Regions from separate parts of the Homo sapiens genome. Here region 2 is linked to region 1. The links come from fine-mapping of genetic effects on gene expression. Tissue or cell type: cerebral cortex. Region 1 holds a variant in brackets; the other region holds the start of a gene. All regions are shown on one strand. Distances are from middle to middle.

Region 1 (8,017 bases):
AGGCTGCAGTGCAATGGCGCGGTCTTGGCTCACTGCAACCTCCACCTCTCAGTTTCAAGCCATTCTCCTGCCTCAGCCTCCCGAGTAGCTAGGCTTACAGGTGCCCACTACCACACCCGGCTAATTTTTGTATTTTTAGTAGAGACAGGGTTTCAGCATGTTGGCCAGGCTGGTCTCGAACTCCTGACCTCAGGTGATCCACCCGTCTTGGCCTCCCAAAGCGCAGGGGTTACAGGTGTGAACCACTGTGCCCCGCCAATTATGATTTTTAAATTAGTTAACTCTTTCTTAATTTCCAAAAATATGAGGACTTTTCCAGTATCTTTTTGTTATTGCGTTATGGTCAAGGAATGTAGTGTTTGAAATGTGATTTAAGGCCTACTACGTAGTTTCTGCAACTCCCCCATAGAAGATTGCAAAGAATGTGCATTATGCAGTTATTTAGTGTGATGTTGTATACACGCCTATGAGATCAAGCCTGTTAATGATGTAGTTAAAATTTCGATTTTTTTTTTTTTTTGAGACAGGGTCTTGCTCTGTTGCCCAGGCTGGAGTGCAGTGGCATGAACACAGCTCACTGCAGCCTAAACCTCCTGGGCTCAAGCATGGGGATGCGCCAGCCTCCCATGTGGCTGGAACCACAGGCACACACCACGCCCAGCTAATTTTTCGATTTTTTTGGAGAGACGGTCTCACTTTGTTGCCCAGACTGGTCTCAAACTCCTGGGCTAGAGTGATACTCCTGCCTTAGCCTCCCAAAGTGCTGGGTTTATGGGTGTGAACCACTATGCACAGCCTCTTAAATGTTCTTATTATCAGAAACATTACTTATTATCAGACTGCTCAATCTAGCAATTACTGAGTTACATTAAAACCTTCCAATATAAAGCTAGATTTATCTATTTTTCTTATGGTTCTGTTAATTTTTTGCCCAATGTACTTTTCATAAATATGTATTTATTAAATGAAAAAAACATTAAATATACTAGTTAAAGTAAGTTGACGAGAAAAGGTTGAGCACTTTCTTGGTGAACCTTTAGCCATAATGTAGTGACCCTCTTTATTTCTTGTTATGCTTTTTTGCCTGAAAATCTATTTTGTCTGATAAATATAGCTACATCAGCTTTCGTTTGGTTGGTATTTCCCCAATATATCTTTTTCCAACCTTTTTCTTTGATCCTTTATATATGCCTATGTAAGATTTTCTTGTTTTAATAGCCTAAAAGTCTATTTTTTAAAAATCCAGGCTGACAATATAACTATTTCTGGTTGGCCATTTTCTCTTCCCTCCACTGTTCCCACCTTGTCCCTGCCTGATATAGCAGCCACAGCCATCCTGTGAAATCCTCTGCTCAGAATTCCTTGATGGCTACCACTACACTCAGAAGACAAGCGCCAAGTCCTCTCCTTGGCCCCCAGGGCCTGCATGATCTGGCCCCTTGTCATCTCTCAGCCTCATCTGTTCTCACTCTCCTCTGCTCTCTCGTGCAACATGACAGCTCCACTTGAATTTCCCAATCACAGCAGCCACATCCCTCCCTCCAGGCATGAGCTCCCGCTGTTCCCTCCACCTGGAGTTCCCTTCCATCCATATCTGCCAGCTTATTCCCCCTTCTTCAGTTCTCACCGCAAAGGCCACTTTCTCTACTTTATTTAGAATAGCGAACCTCCCCATTCTCTACCTTCTTTCACTGTGTTGTTGTTTTTTTTTTTCTCTCTAGAACATTTCCCACATTCTCATGTACGGTTTGTGTTACTTATTTGGTCTGTTGTTTGTCTCTCCTATTGGGGATTTTTGGCTGTTTTGCTCACTGCTCCACGGCTTGTGCCTAGTGCCTAGAATAGTGCTGAACACACAGAAGATGCTTGGTCCATATTTGTTGCATTCATGAATCAATCAGTCTTTGACCTTCACTGGAACATTGAGTCAACTCACATTTTGGAAAGGGCCAATACTTTTATTTGTTCGTACTGTTTTAAGCTGTGCTTTCTATTTGTTCTACCTCTTCCATGTTTCCTTTTCCTCCTTGTGGATTTATTCTCTATCTCATTCCACTTTCTCTCTGCTACTTTGGAAGTTTTCTATTTTTTTAAATACTTTATTCATTTAACAATTGTATATGTTAACTATATAAAGGTAAAATTCATCAATAACTTTACCTTTTCACTGTACAGTATGAACTTAAATGACTTTAATTTTGAACATCTGCTCTCCTTGAGTTACATGATATGATGGTTTGGACATTTTCATTTTCTTTTTAACCTCACAAGAACATTATCATCATTTTGTTGCTCATTATGTTGCCCCCAATTCCTCCTGCATTTCAGACCTTTCTTCTGGTATTATAATACCTTCCTCTGTCTGAAATACATTCTTTAGACTCCTTGGCAAAGGTCTACTAGTGACAAACTCTTTTGCGTGTTATGTGTTGGAAAATGTGTTTCATCCTCATTCATGAAAGATATTTTTGCTTAGAATACATTTATGGTTTGGTAATTATTTCCTTTCCTCAATGGCAACATTACACTGTATTTTTGTTTCCATCTTTGCTGCTGAGAAGTTAGCTGTCAATCAGACTGGAATTGCTCTGGTAATCCTTCCACTCCCTCCAGCTGCTTTAACATCTTTTGACCTTAGTGCTCTAAAGTATGATGTGTCTAGGTGTGGATTTCTTGTGATTCACTGCAATATGTGTATCTTTCACTAGTTGTGGAAAATTTTTAGCCATTATCTCTTCAAATGTTGTCCCATTTTTTCTTTCCAGAGCTCCAATTAGATATTTATTAGGCCTTCTCAAATGGCTTTCCACCTCTTTTTCTTTCTGTGCTGCATTCCCAATCATTTATTTTTCAATTTATTATTATTTTTTGGGCAGAAGGGAATGTTTATTAAAAAACTTTAGAAGGCCAAGTGCAGTGGCTTATGTCTGTAATCCCAGCACTTTGGGAGGCTGAGGCGGGCAGATCATGAGGTCAAGAGATCGAGATCATCCTGACCAACATGGTGACACCCCGTCTCTACTAAAAATATAAAAATCAGCCGAGCATGGTGGCACGCACCTGTAGTCCCAGCTACTCAGGAGGCTGAGGCAGGAGAATCACTTGAGCCTAGTGGGTGGAGGTTGCAGCGAGCCAAGATCGTGCCACTGTACTCCAGCCTGGGGACAGAGCAAGACTCCGTCTCAAAAAAAATTTTTTTTTATATATAATATATATTATAAAAAATACATATTATAAAATAATATATGTAATATATATTATATATCTATAAAAGCTTTAGAGCAGGAACAAAA[G/C]GAAGGAAAGTACACTTGGAAGAGGGCCAAGCAGGTGGCTTGAGAGATCAAGTATGAGGTTTGACCTTCTGACTTGGGGTTTTATATGCTGGCATACTTCTGGCGTCTTGCATCTCTTCTCCCCTGGTTTTTCCCTTGGAGTGGGCTGTCCACATATGCAGATGCAGTGGTCTGCTAGCACTTGGGAGATGAGCATGCACAGTGTGTTTACTGGAGTTGTACGCATGCTCACTTGAAGCGTTTTTCCCTTACCAGCCAAATGTCCCTAGGAGGTCATATGCCAGTTAAAGGCCGCCATTTTGCCTCTTAGTGCACATGCTCAAGCCCACTCCCCCAACTCCTGAGATCTTATCAGGAAGCTACTAATCACTAGTTTCAGGTTTTTCCTATCTATAAGGAGACTGCCTTTCCCTGGTGCTGGCTGCAACTGATTATTATTTTAGAGAGACAGTTTCAACAACTGCCTGATCATCACCTGATGGTCACCTGACATTCCTGGTTGTGGTGGGAAGGGGTAGGGCAGGAGCCCTCTCTTGCCCTGCTCATGTCTGACTACCTACTGTAACCTTTCCTGACTCAAGAGTCCAAGATCCCAATTCTTTGGGGAAAATGGATGAAGGTCAGTCTTCTGTAACTGCTTTCCACTGACAGGTGGTAGTTGGCTGTTCTGTGGGTTTTGGCCTGTTGCTAGCTGTCAGGGCAGGGAGGCTCCGTGGGTTGGTGAAAGTGGGATCCAGCCAGGCCCAAGGGAGACAGGGGCAAGATTGTGCCTCTGTTTGTTCCACTGATGGGCAGTCTAGGGGTCCTTTGTAGAAGGGTGACTCTTGAATATTGAGAGGATGGTGTCCCTCACTGAGGATCATCTGAAGCTTGATGGCAAGTAGGGAATGTATTCGAGTCACACAGCAAAGTATGTTACCGGCGGAAGGTATCCAAGTCACATGGCACCAAAATATGTTAGCGGCAGTGAATCTGTATCTGTACAGGTCTGCCGCAGCCTCAATTATTGCCTCCTCAGAAGAAAGAATTTGACTGAGGGGCATAAGGCAGAAGAAGAGACCAAGGCAAGTTTTAGAGCAGGAGGGAAAGTTTATCAAAAAGCTTCAGAGCAGGAAGGAAAGCACACTTAGAAGAGGGCTAAGCAGGCGACTCGAAAGACAAGTGCCCAGATCATTTCTTTAAATCCATCTTTGAGTTCATTAAAGCTCTCTTCAATGAACTGGGTCAAATCTGCAGGTAGGCCCATCCATGGATTTTTAAACTTTAATTATTATTATTTTCCAATTCCAAAAGAGTTACTTAGTTCTATTTCAAATCTGCTTGGTCATAATTTTAATCTCTTGGTTTACTCTCTCTTTTAATTTCTCTAAACATATGAGAAAAGTTATTTTGCACTATTTGGCAATTTCAATTATCTTAGTCTAACACTGTTATCTATTATTTTGCTGGCTTTGCTCATGGTGCCATGTTTCTTTATTTGTTTTGTGATTTTAAACTCTGATCTCACAAAACTTTACCTGTGGGAATTATTTGAGGTTTGGGTTGGAGGAGGATTCCTCCAGATAAAACATGCATTTGATTCTGCTAGGTGCCTTAGGACCACCTTAAACTCTCAGTCTGAAGTTTTTCAGGCTACCTCCAGAATGTGAATTCATGCCCAAGCTTACAAGGGGTCCAGCTTGTGGTTATAAATTACCAGGGGAGATTCCCCTTCTCCACTCCATTTAGCACCAAGTTTCCAGATAGCCAGTTATCTTTCAATGCCTGAGGGACTGAAGGGTGGACGAGAGGGAGGGCTTATTTCTAGTTGACTTACATATGGAGACTATAGCTGGCACTCTGGGGTCCCAGTCTAGAAGGGTCTCCTCTAGACTCTTCACCTTAAGATTTGCCTATTGTCCCTTACATCCTGCCATAATTCGGGTACAGAGTCACTTCAATCCTAACTCCTGCCTGGTGATCCAGTGACGGGGTCATAAGAGCAGGAGAGGTATACAGAACAACGATGTTACTGCATTTTTCCCTCACTGCCTCTATGACCACGACTACAGCCCAGCTCTTCCCCGACACCGCCTTTTTTTTGTGGGACTTTGAAATACCAGCCACTGTAGCTAACCCATCTTTATTTTTGCTTTAATGGCTTGGCCTGGAAATTCTGTCTTTTTTTGGCCAAATGTCTACAGATAATACTGTCTTTATACACTCACTTGGCATTTATGAAATAAATGAAGTTATGTCTTATTATGTTAGTCCTAAAGTCAACAAGCAACACAAACATAAAATATATTCAGAACTACCCTAAAAAGTCTTAAAGCACCTGTAAAATACATCATGCCAGTTCGGCAACTATCAGGGAGTCCAACAAACACACTTATACTTCCATCCTTCTGTTCTTTCGTTAGCACCCAACTAACATGACTGGCTTGTGTTTAGGCCATAGAGAATGCAAGTATTTTTAGACATTGTGATCAACATTTGCCAAGGTAAACTGCACTATGAGAATCACCTAGGAATGAAGAACCATTGAAGCCAAGAGCAGATTCACATGTCGTGCTCATTTGGAAGCATAAGTTACCTGAGAGGAATGGTGGAGAGACCCTCCTAAACGATCTAAATCATTGTTTCTTTTATCATTTGGAGGCACATGGGGAGGGACTTTGTCTTGCATATACTGCTTATTTTCACTGCTACACTCTTAAGTGCTGAGATCGCATCTTACAAATTTTCACATGACCCAGGGCACCCAGCATTTTGCCTTATAAATATTTACATGAGAGCTGCTTGGTAAATAGTTGATTGACTGATGATCAATAGCGCTGTTACCCTATGGGTGGCAAAAGACTTCCAACTAACAATACAAACTAGGCTTCTACAAACAACAAAAGGCCTGATGTGGTAAGCGGCAATCTGTACTTCCAGGCCAGTGCTTCTACCACTCATCAGCTGTCTGAAGGTTAAGGGATACACATTTTTTTTTTTTTTTTGAGACAGAGTCTTGCTCTGTAGCCCAGGATGGAGTGCAGTGGCATGATCTCAGCTCACTGCAAGCTCCGCCTCCCTGGTTCAAGCCATTCTCCTGCCTCAGCCTCCCAAGTAGCTGGGACTACAGGCACCAGCCACCACACACCTGGCTAGTTTTTTTGTATTTTTAGTAGAGATGGGTTTCACCATGTTAGCCAGGATGGTCTTGATCTCCTGACCTCGTGATCCGCCTGCCTCGGCTCCCAAAGTGCTGGGATTACAGGTGTGAGCCACCGCATTTTTATGAAATCCTATGACTCATAGCTTTTCCAGTTCAGAAAAAAAAAAAAAAAAAAAAAAAAGTTCATCATGAATTTTCTGCCAATAAAGAAGGCCCTAAGCCAGGCAGGTGTGGTGATACATACCTATAATCCCAGCTTAGGAGGCTGAGGAGGGAGAATCACTTGAGCTCAAGAGTTCAGGATTCAAGACCAGCCTGGGCAACACAGCAAGAACCTGTCTCAGAAAAAAAGAATACAGTAAAAAGAAAAAATTCCTATCTGGAAAATGGGACAAATAAAGAAGGCTCAAACCTCAAATGTTATGAACATATAACCAAAGTTATTTTTCTCCCTCCAAGGTCTGAAGTGAATAAGAAAAATAAAATTAAAAACTTAATTTAAAATATTACCTAAATGCAAAGACGTTTACCTCTTAAAGATTTGTCCCTAAGGCCTTTCCAACTGATCTGGGCAGCCCTGGTAGTATCTTCTGGCAACATTCTGGTTTGATAAGAAAGGAAGTGAATGAATCAATTTATTTATATCCTGAGTGACATTAGTAGAAACGGACAGCTGGGGTGTGTGGGCCAACCTGCTGCCCCTCACCTTCCTGGGCATAGCTCCAGTATGTTGGAATGAATAACACAGGCACAAGAACATCAGATCCATTTCATGAAACCTTGCCTGGGTTGTCACAAAGGCGCCGGGCACAGCTGCAAGGGGTTTGTTCAGAGCAAAGACAGCCCAAGGAACTCTGCAATGCAGCCACATGGGACATGGGAGCCGCTGACTACAGCAGCACCACCAAGCCCTCATGGCCTCCCAGAAATCCTTTTTAATTTCTCATGAGTAATGCAGGCATCTGGTTCAGTTCAGATGCTAAAACCAACAAGAGCTCAAGTGTCCATCTATGGGGGAAGATTTCCTTTCTACTCGCAAATGAGTGTTGAATAATTTTAATACAATGCTATTTTAAGGAATTCTACTATAAAGAATTATAGTCATTAATACAACAAGCCTAATTCTTCTAAGAAAAATGCACATAACTCATTTCTGAAGATATACTTAAGTCTCACAAACCTGTAAAAAACCATGTTCCCCCTATTCTGGATTATTTTATTATAATAAACCCATCAGATGGGCATGATAACATTTTATCACGGAATAGAGAGATATAAATCTCTGAAAGACTTTCAAATGTCATTCAGTGAAAAGTGTTTCTTTTTGTAACTACATTTAGATAGTAAGTATCCTAATGGAAGACTGATTAACATGTTTGACAGAGGTTTTTTGGCATAAGAATACTTAATAACCACCCTGTTATGAAAATTTAAAAATTTTAAGGCTGACTAAAATCAATGTTCTTGGGATCTAATTCTATGATGTATCTACCATGCTAGTTTCGAAGCATAACCTACTTGAGTATATCTGGTGTATTTTTATATAAACATGTAAAACCTAGATTTATAAAATAAATGGCTG
Region 2 (7,528 bases), 870 kb before region 1:
TGAGCTTCCAGGGGTTAGGATGGCTCATCCACACTGGTGACAGGAGGACTAGAGGTAGGGAAGAAGACTGTGAGTCCAGGGCTGAAGTTTCAAGGAATCGAGGAGTGGGCAGGAGGTCAAGGAAAGTCAAGGGTGAGGTTGGGGTAAACATTGATGACTGCCTGATAAATCTCTAATGAACACATGGATGCATGAATCAGTGAATAAGTGAGCAAATGAATGCATTAATTCAGACTAATCTGGCACATTCTGGGAATGCCTAGTCATAAATCTTGAGATTCCCAAAGAAAACACCAGGCTCAGAGAAGGCAGATTACTAGGAGTGTAGAGGCCTCAGGTTATCGTAAGAGTTGAAGATGAGCAAATCTTTTCAGCCTATCCTATCTGAGAAGCTGTTTGCACTCTCCAGAACAGCCCATGTTCAGTACGGTAGCTATTAGCTCCTTGCAGTATTCAGAACCTGAAATACGGCTAGTCCAAATTCAGATGTGATGTCCAAGTAAAATACACACTGGATTTTGAAGACTTAGTACAAAAAAAGAACATAAAATATCTCATCTTGAACTATTGATTACAAGTTAAAATACAAAATTTTTGGATCTATGGGGTAAAATAAAATATTATTAATTAATTTCACTTGCTTTATCAATTGATTTATTTTTACTTTTTACATGAGGCTACTAGAAAATTTTAAATTGCATATGTGGTTCACAACATATTTCTTTTGGGCAGCACTGTCCCAGGCGTTGGTCCGTAGCCTCTGTAATCCTGAAGAAAGCACTATGCCGCCCCAATATTTGCACATGTTCAACCAATAAGTTAATAAATGCAGCCACTCTGTTGGAATTCCACATATATTTGTTGTCATAAGTAAAATTTTAGCCCTCAAGGGCTTAAATTTCTTATAGACTGGAAATGTCCCTTTAAGAGAGCATCTTAAGTCTCTCAAAGTATTGCAAAACCTCCCACTTGCTCCATTACATAGGTTCTGCACCCTGGAAACCATGGTAGTGATGGATGCAGGTGCTCATACTTGTCTTCATTGTTAGCACAGCTGGAATGAATTGAGGGAATCGTCTCTCTTCTTGGGATATTTCTGAAACAATGAGGCTGGAGACTGTGCAGATTGCACTTGTAATTTTCCTCTGACTGGGGAAGCCTAAGGCTCCACTCCTTCGGCCAAGTCTCCTTGGAACCTGTAGTTATTGGCTTGCTTAGTAATACTCATTACAATTTGGAGGGCAGGAGCTCTATTTTAGCCAGAAATTGTGGAAGAAGATCCTACATCAGCCACGTCTGGAGCTGCTTTTCTGCCCAAATCCAAAAATGTAATAGTAAACATTGAGAGTTTATACTGGGTCAGGCACAATGAGGAAACTGAGGCCCCAAGAGCTTAGGCAACCTGAGAGATTCCACAGGTAAAAAGTGGCAGAGCCAGGATTTCAACTCAGTTGGTCTAACTCCAAAGCTTGTGATCCTTATATCACCCTACACCTTCCAACACGGCTGATTATGGACCAGGAAACAAAAAGAGGGAAGCCTCACTTAACTGGCCGCAGAAAAAGCCTCTGAAAGAACATAGATCAGTTGGGCTGACACATTGTGCCCACACTGTGCACTGAACAGCCCAGTTGAGACTGGATCCTTTAGCAGAGGTTCCCAAACCGTGCATTGGAATAAGTAAGTGTTTAAGGGCCTCATTCCAGGGCTGCTAAATCAGAACTCTGGGAGTAGGGCCTAGAAATTTGTATTTTGAAAGCATTTTCCCAGTGGAGATAAGGGAACCGTTACCCTTGATTAGGATCTGATTTGGAACTTGGACTTCTGGATAACTCATGGTACAAAATGGAAGGAGGGTACAAGGAGGGTTTTACTTAAGCTACATCAAAGGAGGGGGCCTGACCTCGGGAGCGCCTTTGGTAGATCCACCATTTGTGCACTAATTTCTAAGCAGCTTCCCAACCTTCAGATTGCTGGGCCTCTGTTTCATCTCAAAGGGATAAGTGCTGTTGCCTGAAGGCAGGCAGACATTGCCACCTCTAGAACTAAGGGTAAGTAGTGGGAAGGCCACAATACTAACTCTCTCCTTCTTCCTCCTATTAGCCTTTCAGTGTTATGATGTACCCAGCTGGTCCAGGATCTGGTGACTCCCCAGAAGGCTTCCCTGAACAACCAAGGCTCCAGCCACAAACTGGAAATCGTGCAACTCAGACACTGGGTACTGAAACTGGGTGCATTGTCCAGTCCCTCCTTCAGAGCCTGTTTGGGGTAGAAGATTGGGGGAGGGGGACTGGGGAAGAGAGACTCAAAGAGGTCGCAGGTGGCACAGAAGTGATGGCAGAACTGGCCTTCATTTAGTGACATATGCTTTGTTCAACCAGTCAGTAAAGGCTTATGTGGTGGCTAGTAGTGCTAGCGAATGCAGATTCGGCCGCTTGCAAAACCAACGAGCAAGGTCGTGGTATGGTAGAAGGAGACTGACTTTATTATAAACCAAAGCTAGCAGTGGGGAAAAACGATCCAGGCTTTTGCTTTAATGGAGCTGCTTCACATTTCCAAGCAAAATGCGAGGCTTTAAGAAGTTTTGGCATGGAGGGTATGCAAGGGGTGAGGCAGTGCAGGTCTTCATGACGAGTTCTGATGACTTGTCTTGAGTTACTGCCCATCTGGTGAATGGGCTGGCATCATCTCGGGCTGGGCTGAGTTATAAATTAACTGTAGCCTTGAATCAATCTCCTGGTGGAGATTTCCACAGATGCCTATATTGTTTCAAGATTTAGTCTCTGGAACTTTTAAGCGAACATACAATTAGATATGCTAACAGTGTGTATGGGGGGTGCTGGGGTGTCGGGGGGTGCCTAGTGGTTAACTGAACAAAAATAAAGAAATAGAAGTATATAACAAGAATATAACTTCCAAGCTGGGTACTTGGTTACAATAGGTGCTTGGATTGTATTAGAGATACCTCAAAGTGAGCAAACAACCAGCCAGAACTGGTCCCTGGCCTTGTGGAAGTTTCTCTCTTCTGTCTCTCTCCTCTCTCCCTTCTCTCTCTCCTCTCTTTGTCCTCTCTCCTTTCTTTCTTGACTTCCTTACCAATGGGAAACCCTGTTTTTCTAGATTAGGGAAAAGAAGGCCCGTTTAGAAAGTAGGGAAGGAGACAAAGTCTTACTTCCTGAAGCAAGGTAGGACTCAATTTGTGACCTAGAATCTGAGACAGGGAAGTAGAGGCAGGAAAACGGGGGAAATGGGGGAATAACTCGCTTCCTTTCTGGGTCGAGAAGGGCTAGAAGTCAAGGTTCAGTGGAGCCTTAGAGAAAGTCCAGCTCTTCATTTTACAGGTGAGGAAACTGAGGGGCGGAGAGGCTATAGTGTGGTAACAAGGTGGACACCTAGTCAGCTGCAGAAGTGGGAATAAACTGTGGCCTTTGAATAACACTATGGGGCCTCCAGTGAGGCGCTCAATTTTAATTCGGGACGCCTGGGTGGCAGCCGGGTGCTAGGGGTGGCTAGTTGCCATGGGAACCGGCTCCTCCCACTTCCTGCGTGCGCACCCGTAGACCTGCGCTCCCAATAAAGTTGTTGTTGAAGCGCGGCGGCGGCACCACGTGGGCCGGACCGGGCCGGGGGCGGGGCCGAGCTGAGGGAGGACCTGCTGGCTGCAGTGAGGAGCGGAGGCGGGCGCGGGCGGCCGGCCATGATCGCGTCGTGCTTGTGTTACCTGCTGCTGCCGGCCACGCGCCTCTTCCGCGCCCTCTCAGGTACCGGCCAGGCGTACCGACAGACAGGAGCCCGGCCAGGGCTCGCCTCTGCGGGGCTCCGCGGGCCTGGGGCGGCGTGCGGTTGGCCGGGCCTCACGACTACCGTGCCCCGGGCAGTGCCGAGGTGTAGGGAGGCGGTCCTGAGCCCCTGCCCCGCGGGCCCCTCCTGACCCCACGAGGCCTGGACCTGGCCGACGTCCCTCGTGGGCGGCCCCTCCTCCCGCCTGTTGTCAGATGGCGTCCGGCCGCGGTTAAGGTGGAGAGGAGCTGTGGACGGGCAGGGCCCTTTCCTGGCCCTGGGGGTGCAGAGAAATTGTGGGGTCGGCCAAGTCAGCACCCCGGCGGGTCGGGAAGGGGTAGTAGCTCGGACCTAGGCGAGTGCCCAAATTCTCAGCGGGCGAGGCGGGTCGGCTCTGGGAGGTTTATGGCCGAAGTACTGGACGCACCGATCTTCCCCAGGTTAACTTCACACTCGCCTTTCACTGCCACCTGGCAGCTCTCGCTCACCGGTGTCTTTGGTTGAAAAACGGACGTTCAATCAGAGACACATTTAGATCTCAGCTTTGGAGCATTCCTGCCCCCACTCCCGGCGGTTTAGAGGGAGATGTGCTGGGGTGGGGGCAATGCCCAGTCGATACCTCAAAGAGGGGGTGTTTATTTCGTTATTGTTTCATAATTTGTCTGCATTCTCTATTTCTGGGCTTTGAAATTACGGAGGGTTTTATGCGACCATCAGTTTCTGAGATCCCATGGAACTCGCAGACTTTTTGCCTTTAATTTATGGGACAGGACCAAGAAGTACTTAGGAATGAGGGCTCCAATTGTATATTCTGTGGTTTTCCTTTGTGGAACTTTACACAATTGGTACGCAATGTGTGTGTCATTGATAATATATATTTCATATAGAAATATTTTAAATTTTACTGTGTATCTGCCATTAGAATGCAAACTTCAGGAGCGCAGGGCCACGTCCATTTTGTTCGCTGTATCTCTGGTGTTAACACATTGCTTGGTATACAGTAGGCACTCAGTGAATTCAGGAATGTCTTGTGTGTCCATACTTCTGAGGAATGTGGGAAACTCCACAGAAGTAATTGTTTCCAGAGAACTAAACATATTCTTTTAACTATGTTGCTGTTTTTCCTGGAGCTCTTCTAATGCCTTAGTGATACAGTATACTAGTCCAGAGGTTTCCAGACCAGTAGAGTTCTAGGGATCTCAGAGGAGGGCCCCCCCCGCCCCCCCACCTACACATTACAGTAGTCCCACTTATATTTACTTGGCATATTTGGTTTCCAGATAAGATTTTTAAAAAACAAAAGCATTCTGCTGCTGAAAATCCACCACCACCACCACCAAAAGACATCTACCAAAATTGAAAGCTAGTAACTTCGTGCATATGAACCAAAGAACCTCTGCCATCTGGTATACACAGAGGATATTTCAAGGGGCAGATAATCAGGAAGTCCTTGAGGCTAAAGCTCAACGACCCAGCCCATACATAGGTTTAGAGCAGGGTTTCTCAATCTCAGCACTGTTGACGTTTTGGACCGGATCATTTGGTGTGGGTCTGTCCTGTGAATTGTTGGAAGTTCAGCAGCGTCTCTGTCCTCTAACCACTAGATGCCAGTAGCAATGCTGCAGTTGTGACAACAACAGTGTCTCTGAACGTTGCTAAATGTCTTCCGAGGGCAAAATCACCGTGGTTAAAACCATTGTTTAGAAGGACATAAATATACATAGACCCCAAACAAGATATTTGAACCGTCTTTCAATATTTGAGCCACTTTTAAGGTTTCTTCCCTTTAAAAAAAAATTGCCAATAAAATGAGTCTAGTGATTGAGGGCCAGCATCGTGCATGTTACTCGTCCTGTGCTGTAAATAAATGGTTGAGTGTGTGAGTGTAGGAGTTGTTTGCTCTCACCAAAATACTGTGCTCAGAGTTTGGGGGCTCTAATTTTAGAGTTTTTCCCACTTTCTTTCTTGCCTGTTGGCTGTCATTGGTGGCTGCAGTATCAGAGAGATGTCAGCTGTCTCTTACTGTCGATTGTTGGCACCTTGTAATTTATAGCCTCTGATGTGTTGTGGAATGGGAAAGCAGATAATGAAGTTTGTGAAGATTTTATTACAATAAGTAGCTTTGAGAAAAGGCTTAAGGGCCCTTGCTAAGATGTAAATTGTATAGATTTTTGAGACTGTCTACTTTAGGACTTTTTCTTTTGGAATACATTAATAGATTAGGGAATTTATACAGCTAGAAAAGCTCAGAGATTATCTAGTTCAAACTTGTCTCTATTTTTTTAAATTTAAAATTTATTTTTTTCTTTTCTTTTCTTTTTTTTTTTGAGATGAGGTCTCACTTTGTCTCCCAGGCGGGAGTGCAGAAGGGCAGTCATAGCTCACTGCAGCGTCAACCTGGGCTCAAGCAATCCTCTCATTTCAGCCTCCCAAGTAGCTAGGACCATGGGCATGTGCCACCGTACTTGGCTAATTTTTAATTTTTTGTAGAGATGAAGTTTCGTTATGTTGCCCAGGCTGGTCTCTAACTCCTGGCCTCAAGTGATCCTGCTGCCTCTGTCTCTGCCTCCCAAAGTGCTGGGAGCCACCACGCCTGGCCTCTTGTCCCCATTTTACAGTCAAGAGTAACTTCATCTGACTAGGGGCATTGTTCAAGGTCAGTTTTATTAATTTTGGTGCTAGATCATAACCCACAGTTCTGATTAACAGTCAGTTGCTGGTTGCAATGTAATGTGATTCTTAGAACCAAAGAGTTTGTTAATAGTAGTCTTAACTAAGTCATGTAAAAGGAGTGTGGGTATATGTGCCCATCTGTGTTCTAGATTATGTGAGACAGCTGTTCTTTCATGCACTGAATATTTATCAGATCCCTGCCATATAAATTAGTCAACACTTGTAAAGAACAGTGCCTGGCACATAGTGAATACTTTGCCCTGATGATGATGATGATGTTCAGGCATTAAGGTAGGCAGGCTCAGTGATGGTACAATGATGAGCAAGGTGGATATGGGTCTTGCTTTTATTGGGCTTATGTTTTAGCTGGGAGAATAGTGTGGGTTGGATGACAGTCTTATAACCTGGTATTTTGGCTTTCCTCCTAGATGCTTTCTTCACATGTCGAAAAAATGTCCTTCTGGCGAACAGCTCATCCCCCCAGGTAGAGGGCGACTTTGCCATGGCCCCTCGGGGCCCTGAGCAGGAGGAATGTGAGGGCCTGCTGCAGCAGTGGCGAGAAGAAGGGTTGAGCCAGGTGCTCTCAACTGCAAGTGAGGGGCCCCTTATAGATAAAGGACTAGCCCAGAGCAGCCTGGCACTTCTGATGGATAATCCTGGAGAAGAGAATGCTGCTTCAGAGGACAGGTGGTCCAGCAGGCAGCTGAGTGACCTTCGGGCTGCAGAGAACCTGGATGAGCCTTTCCCTGAGATGCTAGGAGAGGAGCCACTGCTGGAGGTGGAGGGGGTGGAGGGCTCCATGTGGGCAGCTATCCCCATGCAGTCGGAGCCCCAGTATGCAGACTGTGCTGCCCTCCCAGTGGGTGCCCTGGCCACAGAGCAGTGGGAAGAGGACCCAGCGGTGTTGGCCTGGAGCATAGCACCTGAGCCTGTGCCCCAGGAAGAGGCTTCCATCTGGCCCTTTGAGGGCCTGGGGCAGTTGCAGCCTCCCGCAGTGGAAATACCATATCATGGTGAGTCTGACAACTGGTTGAGTGAGCCAAGGGAACAGGGTGTCTCAGGTGTGGGCAGAGCC

Evidence for each region. PIP is the estimated chance that this variant, and not a neighbour inherited with it, causes the effect.
Region 2: it holds the start of ANGEL1, and the variant in region 1 is fine-mapped to the expression of ANGEL1 in cerebral cortex (GTEx, PIP 0.93).

Annotation. Positions count from the first base shown.
Region 1 is chr14:75,940,443-75,948,459 of GRCh38, reverse strand. The region is part of intron 31 of TTLL5 (tubulin tyrosine ligase like 5); the gene reads right to left. Among named protein-coding and RNA genes, the nearest start is that of TGFB3, 38 kb to the left of the region's middle. The variant G/C (reference allele first, on the strand shown) is at 3,294.
Region 2 is chr14:76,808,997-76,816,524 of GRCh38, reverse strand. ANGEL1 (angel homolog 1) reads left to right here and starts at 3,643. Exons shown (of 10, transcript NM_015305.4): 1 at 3,643-3,761; 2 at 6,882-7,466. The coding sequence starts at 3,698. RefSeq lists a silencer at 3,576-4,005 and enhancers at 3,454-4,027, 4,028-4,602.